2 linked regions of the Homo sapiens genome follow. The protein of the gene in region 2 purifies or fractionates together with the protein of the main gene of each other region. This does not show direct contact. Each region holds a gene or a part of one and is shown on either strand. Other genes may lie near its edges.

Region 1 (3,187 bases), on a different chromosome or scaffold from region 2:
AGAAGGCCAAGATTTTATGTAATGCCAAGTATAGTGGAGAGCTATTACCTAATATATTAGACAGACATTTATTCAGGCCAGGGCACACTATATTGTCTAGGCATTTTATATATATATATGTGTGTGTGTGTGTGTGTGTGTGTGTGTATATACGTATATATGTATATATATATTTATATATATTTATATATTTATATTTATATATATTTATATATTTATATATTTTATTTTCTTGTATTAGGTTGTGATAATCCAGCTAGAGAAGTTTCATAAAACTCAAATCTAAAATCTTTCTTTTGCTGAAGAAAATATTTTCTGACTAGTTGATTCTGCCACACACGTCACAGCTAGCCTGCTCCCACATCCAAAACATATTCTAAGAAGGAAGCAGCTTAGCTGTCAGAATTTTTTTTAATGCCAGGTTATCATTGCTAAGCAATTCCCTATCCTTACAAGGACAGGCAGTGAAGAGGAGGATTCAGTCCAAAGACAACTCCCAATTTGTAGGTTGTTAAATACCTGTAGGTTTCTTTTAATCATAAAGAAGGAAAATGAAAGACTTGAGGATCACCTACATAGAGCGAAAACAGAAAAAAACCCCGAATCCCATTGCTTTGGCACTAGTATCTTTGGCTGATCTGAGATTACATGAGACACCAAAAATAAAAACACTGAACTTTGGTTTGATGAAATAGATAATTCAGGTTGTCATTTATAATTTTAGAGTTTGCTTCACATATACAATGCTGTGTTACGAAACAATGAACACTTTTATAAAAAATTTATTTCACACTTTTATACAAATATCCACAGGTAATTTCTAATCATGAAATAATTTTACAATGCTAGTTAGTACAAAAATGTATCAAATGCAAACAGACCAGTGACTTGACTTGAGATGACATTTTTAACAACCATAAATCTAAACACCATAACATCTTTGTTTCTTTGTTGAACCACCCTCCCAACACCCTTTTCAGGACATTCATCTTTTTTTTAGTAACACAGGTCTAAAAACACTGTCAAAGTATCAGCTCCTTAGCAATCTAGCAATCTAAACACATTAGGGACACAAGTTCCCCAAGCAAGAAACTGAGACTTTAAACACTGTTATAACCTGTTTTACAGAAATTTTTGTAAACAAAATATATTTTGTGACTAAGAATTCCAAAGTACAACCAAAACAACGTCCTTAGTATCTTAAGGTTTAAGATTTCCGAAAAGAAAAAAGCCCCCCCAAAACAACAGTGGCACTACAAACTGTGTTCTATTCTTTCAAAACACAGACACTGCTTATACTATATCCAAAACAAATTAGCACCTGTTTGCTGTTGCTCCCCATATAACTTAACATTGTGAAGCATGGTAATTAAAAAAAATCAGCTTTCATATCTATTCAGTCTCTGTTGAATGTATAGAGTAATAATTCCACCCCCTGCCATTTTTACAATTAAAACACAATTTAAAGTTCTTGTTAAATTAGCCCCAAAGTAATTTTTGGGAATACAGATAGGGGAGGAAACAAAACAAAAAATAGAACATCGACTCACTGATTAACTGTTTTGGTAGCAGATTCAGTAGTCTTATACTGGATCAGTTTGGATCCACCATAGGCATTCACCATTTCTTTCAAGTCCTGAATATACAGTATTTGCAGCAGTGAGTAAACCGCACTAGAGTTCAGTGAATAAACCCATTTTCTCCAAGAATTCCTGAATGTTACAGTATGAAATCCAGAAACATTATGCAGGCTTCTAAAGTAAAAAATATCCAATGCCTGAAATAAACATCTTTACAGTTATAATTCTATTTCTTAAACCTTTTGGGTTGTGGGGTGGAGGCTGTCATGAAGGAGAGGTTATAGTTTATAGATAAGTTATTAAAACAACTCTCTCTGGTACATTTATAAAGATTTTCTTTTTGCAGTAAATAATTTAGGTCAAAGTGATGACCTCCCATGCTCTAATTCTGATTGATTAAACCAACCTGAAGGGTAAACTGGAGACTCTTTGGCCTGTTAGTCAATAACAAAATGGTTTGTAAAGAAAAGAAAAAATAAATACCATATACAAATAAGTATAACTAGCATTCAAGTCTGTTGCACCTGTGTGTTTTAGTGAAAGGGAGAATGAAACTTGTATGCATTTGACGTGAGCAGGTATTCACACAGCTAGGAAACAGGAAAAGACGGTAGGATGGCAACATCACCTTCTATTGCACATTTAGTTTAAGACAGCACTTTCCGTTGAAACACAACTACCCCAATGGCATAGTCTTGTGATGTGGGACAGCTAACGTGATGGACGTCTGCGCAGCAGGCCCGAGGTTAGGACGGCCACTCTGTTAGTGCAGGTGAGTGTAGGTGCCTCCTCAGCTACACTATCTGGAGGATGTCACCTGAGTGCAACTGGGCAGGCCCTTCCCCAACACATGATGTAAGTCAGCCACGCCAAAAATAAAGGCAACCCAGAAAGTTAAATTACGGCAGTTAAAGAAAAATCCATTCCAACAGTTTTAAATTTGGCTGTGCAAAACAGGAGCCTTAGGCTACGTAACAATATCCACAGTTAAAACTGTAGGTTCGTACTGTGTGTAGTCACTCTGAAATCAGTCCTCAGGGATTGAGCAGGCTTTTAAATCCAAATTGAATTTCTGAGTTGGAAAAAGCAGTTTGGGTACTGTGAAGCTTTTTTTTTTTAGGCCCCCGCTATGAGTAGCTTTCATTTTCGTTCCACTTTGTGATCCACTGTTTTTTTTCAAGGTTATCAATATACTTTTCATCTTTGATCTCTCGCTCTTCTTTCCGGATCCTTACAGCATGGTATCGGGGAACACTGTCATCGTACCTAGAGCGTTTAAAGAATCCACACTAGAGAAGAGGGAAAGAGAAAGAGAAACAAATTAATCTCACAAAGAAGCAAATACACTAAATGGGAATGTCTAAGCTTTCTGTTCAGCTATGTCTACCTCTGGACTAAGGGGAAAAAGACATGGTTTTCTTTTAAGAAAGAACCAAGAGGCTGAAATGAAAGAAGAGCCAGTGGGGATCAACGGAAGAGAACAGCTGTAAAACTGGAAGAAAAGTCCATTTTCATCTTCTCTTTACATTTTATAACAAATGTAGGCTACCTCTTTACTAACAATTTAAGAGTTTATGAAAACAGTGCTTCCATATTTAAAAATAATC
Region 2 (3,500 bases):
TTCACCATCTTGGCCAGGCTGGTCTTGAACTCCTGACCTCGTGATCCGCCCGCTTCAGCCTCCCAAAGTGCTGGGATTACAGGCATGAGCCACCGCGCCCAGCCTGATGGCAATTTTAATACATAAACACTTACAAATAAGATGTATACAAGTATATTTAACCTAAAAGGCATATGACATATTTGCTACAACAAATATCCATTACTATTATATTTTTAAAGTAGAAATTATTATAGATATTTCTCTGATATTGCCGGATATTCTGTGTTTAGGAATATAGTGACAATATTGTTTTGGCACATATAGGAAATTGTGGTATTGTCAATAAGTAAGGGTTTTTCTGGCTTTTCCCCTCCTATTTCCTGTACGTGCCTCCAACCCTCTCTCCTACTTCCTTATCACATGAAGAAGACAGAGAAAGACTACTATTGATATAATTTTCAGCAAGTTACTGCCCAAAGAGTAGAGCTTGAGGAAAATCAGGTTTTATCAAGAAAAAGTATGCCAAAGGGGACTTTTAGGCCCCTTAAAGGTTTTTGTAATTGATTTTACATCATTTAAATTTGACTCTAAATATATTGAGTTTCCTTTTCCTTGTTAGAAGGAATAATTACAGGCATTCTTATGCTTCTCAACCACAGTTGGGATCATTTTCAGCTCAAAACTGGAACAAAGACCAGAAGAATTTTTTGTGGCAACTGAGAAAAAAAAATGCAAGAAAGGGAGAAAAAGGTTCGTAGTAAGGGTTGTATATTTAGAGTCTCTCAAGAAGGTGACAGCTGGACCTGGAGGGAAGACAAATTAAAAGTAGGGGTCCTGCCTGAAAGAAAGGAAAAGAGCCAAGGAAGAGATTTGTGCCAGTCCATTCTCTGCATGGGCAACTAGGTTGCTAGACATAATGACCTGGCAGGGGAAAATAATCTCCAGGAGGTAAGAGGAGTAGAGACTTTGCTACCAGCCTTTGGTGTACATGGAATATTTGTGTTTTGAGGGCTGTGACTGTATGATGCAATATTATTATTAAAATAGATATTGAAACTTACAAGAAATGTAGTCATGGATGTGCAATAATTAAAATGGTTATAGACATGAAGGCACACTGATTACTGGAACATATTTGTTATAGATTTTCCCTTTCTATCTCAAAGACAGATTTCCAATTTTTATGCTATCCCACACCAAGAGAACCTTGACTCACCATGTATTTAGTCAATTTCACATTCTTTTTCTCCGGAGGGATGAAGATGAAGTGCGTTTCTCTTTCTCATCCAGTGTCAATCCACTGTATGACCGTGACATGAGAATGTGGCCTCATCTTACCACTTCCAGTAGGGTTGGCTAATTTAAACAGACGGGTTTGGGGTAAGTCTCCATACCCTGCCTGATACCACAGTCTGGGAGGACAGGAAATGAACAAAGCCCTGAGCTTTCAGCTGAAAACACTCAGTTCCCCAAATTGCAGGTCAGATACCCACTAATGGAAGATGACCAACAGGGCTTCTGTGATCAAAAGGCTACACAGGAAAAGAACTATCTTCAAAGTTATCAAAGCCCAACCAGATGTTCAGCTTCAGATAAGACAACTACATCTTACACCCAGAAGGGAGCACTTTACCCACCGGCTAATGCTAATGCCTTTCACCCTAAAAGCAGCTGGGCTGGGTATCCAGTACGTTGCTTAGGGGCATCAGCTGACCCCACACTACTCACTACACTCTAGAGTTGGCCAGATCAGTGCTTACAACCTGCCTGCATTTCTTTTTCTTGTAAACTGAGTCTCACTTTGTTGCCCAGACTGCAGTGCAGTGACACGATCTTGGCTCACTGAAACCTCTGTCTCCTGGATTCAAGCGATTCTCCTGCCTCAGCCTCCAGAGTAGCTAGGATTACAGGCTCATGTGCCACCACGCCCAGCTAATTTTGTATTTTTAGTAGAGCTGGGGCTTTGCCATGTTGGCCAGGCTGATTTCGAACTCCTGACCTCAGATGATCTGCCTGCCTCGGCCTCCCAAAGTGCTGGGATTACAAGTGTGAGCCACCTCGCCCGGCCCTGCCTGCATTTCTTGTGCCACCCAAGGCATCACGAGCTGATAAGTAAGACATTAAAGTGGCATCTTGAGAGACTGCTTTCCCAAATGGGAACCAACCCTGGCTTCACATGAGAGAATTCAGAACTAAGGATTTAGAGCATTAATCATATGTTATCTGAAGGGAAACAACTCTAGCCCCACATGCTACTCATTTTAAGGATCTGATGCTATAAAACTACACCTGTATCCGCCATCTTACCCTCATTTCAGCCATCAATTGGAGAAGCAGCATTTCTGTCTTTAGGGGCTTAATCTGATGTCAGTAATAACCAGAACTTCCTCTGCAATGCTCCCTCTGCTGAGGGCAGAGCTCCTCACTTGAGGCCTCTAGATCCCTGAGAGTCCATGAATGGGTTTTAGAGGGTCCTTATATCCCCTAGGACTGTGCAGCAAATGTTCATGGCCCTGTGTGAGAAAGTCTTTGGCTCTCATCACATTGTCAAACGAATCTGTGACCAAAACTAGTGATTAGGAAACATTGCTCCAAAGCACAAGCCAATCAGTCCATGAAAAACCCTGTTAGGTGGGGAATAGAATAGTCAGCGCGTGCTTGTAGAAAGAGGTCTGATTTCAGGCGTTAGACCCTTGCACATCCGACAGACCCTGTGACTTGCGCCTCCAATGTGAAGATGGGTTGTTAACTTATCCTTGATTTACCACATCATGTCTCAAGAGATCAGAGGCCCTGACGATGGGGAATGTGATTAAAGTAAAAGAATCATCTCCACTTTAAGAAGAGCACGAGACATTGAAGGCTATTTGAAAGCTATTACAATCACTAAACTTCCAAAGCCAGGTGAAGCAGATAATCTCAGAACAGTGGCTACTGCGATGTCATTCACTTTCATATGTTTATTTTGTGATATAATGTTGTTGTGGCATAAGTCTAATTGTTATTACTATTTTGAGTGCTGAGTTCTGTATATAAAATACTACATTTCATCAAAAAATATACTTTCTTTTCTTCTTTAACATAATGTTATCATACAGTAAGGTCCAGAGTGTTTTCTGTCCGTAGCACTCCCATATTCTACCACGGGTTTAATAACCACCGCTCGATGGCCTGAAATAGAATGTTTATGGGTCCCAGACTCTCCCCATGACCATCTTTCTCTGTGCTCATAGTTCCCCTAGTCACAGCTACTTTTAATTGGTTCAAGTGCTGGACAAAATTGTTTAACTGTGGAAGAGGATTTTGTGCCACAAACTATATTCCTTTAAGGAATATCGTAAGTACAGCTTCCTGGTTTTTGCTGTTTGTTTCTATAACAAATAAATAACTTGTCCCTCTGGGCTTTCTCTGTTTTCATTCCCCTTTTACATTATAAGTCCTTCAATTCTGAGCCTTTAAGTAGCGGCTTCACCTTCAACACACACACACACACTCTCTCTCTCTCACACACACACACA

Evidence for each region. The genes of interacting proteins can lie anywhere in the genome.
Region 1: the proteins of RHOH (region 2) and ITGA6 purify together in Homo sapiens (affinity purification with mass spectrometry, with the first as the bait; one large-scale study listed by BioGRID). This does not show direct contact.

Annotation. Positions count from the first base shown.
Region 1 is NC_000002.12:172,503,773-172,506,959, reverse strand, and holds the end of ITGA6 (integrin alpha-6 isoform b preproprotein), read right to left. Parts: exon of another isoform or gene 2,870-3,187; coding exon of another isoform or gene 2,708-2,869; 3' UTR 501-2,707; downstream 1-500. UniProt on the Homo sapiens protein: Integrin alpha-6/beta-1 (ITGA6:ITGB1) is a receptor for laminin on platelets. Integrin alpha-6/beta-1 (ITGA6:ITGB1) is present in oocytes and is involved in sperm-egg fusion.
Region 2 is NC_000004.12:40,203,531-40,207,030, reverse strand, and holds part of RHOH (rho-related GTP-binding protein RhoH precursor), read right to left. Parts: intron 1,319-3,500; exon of another isoform or gene 1,199-1,318; intron 1-1,198.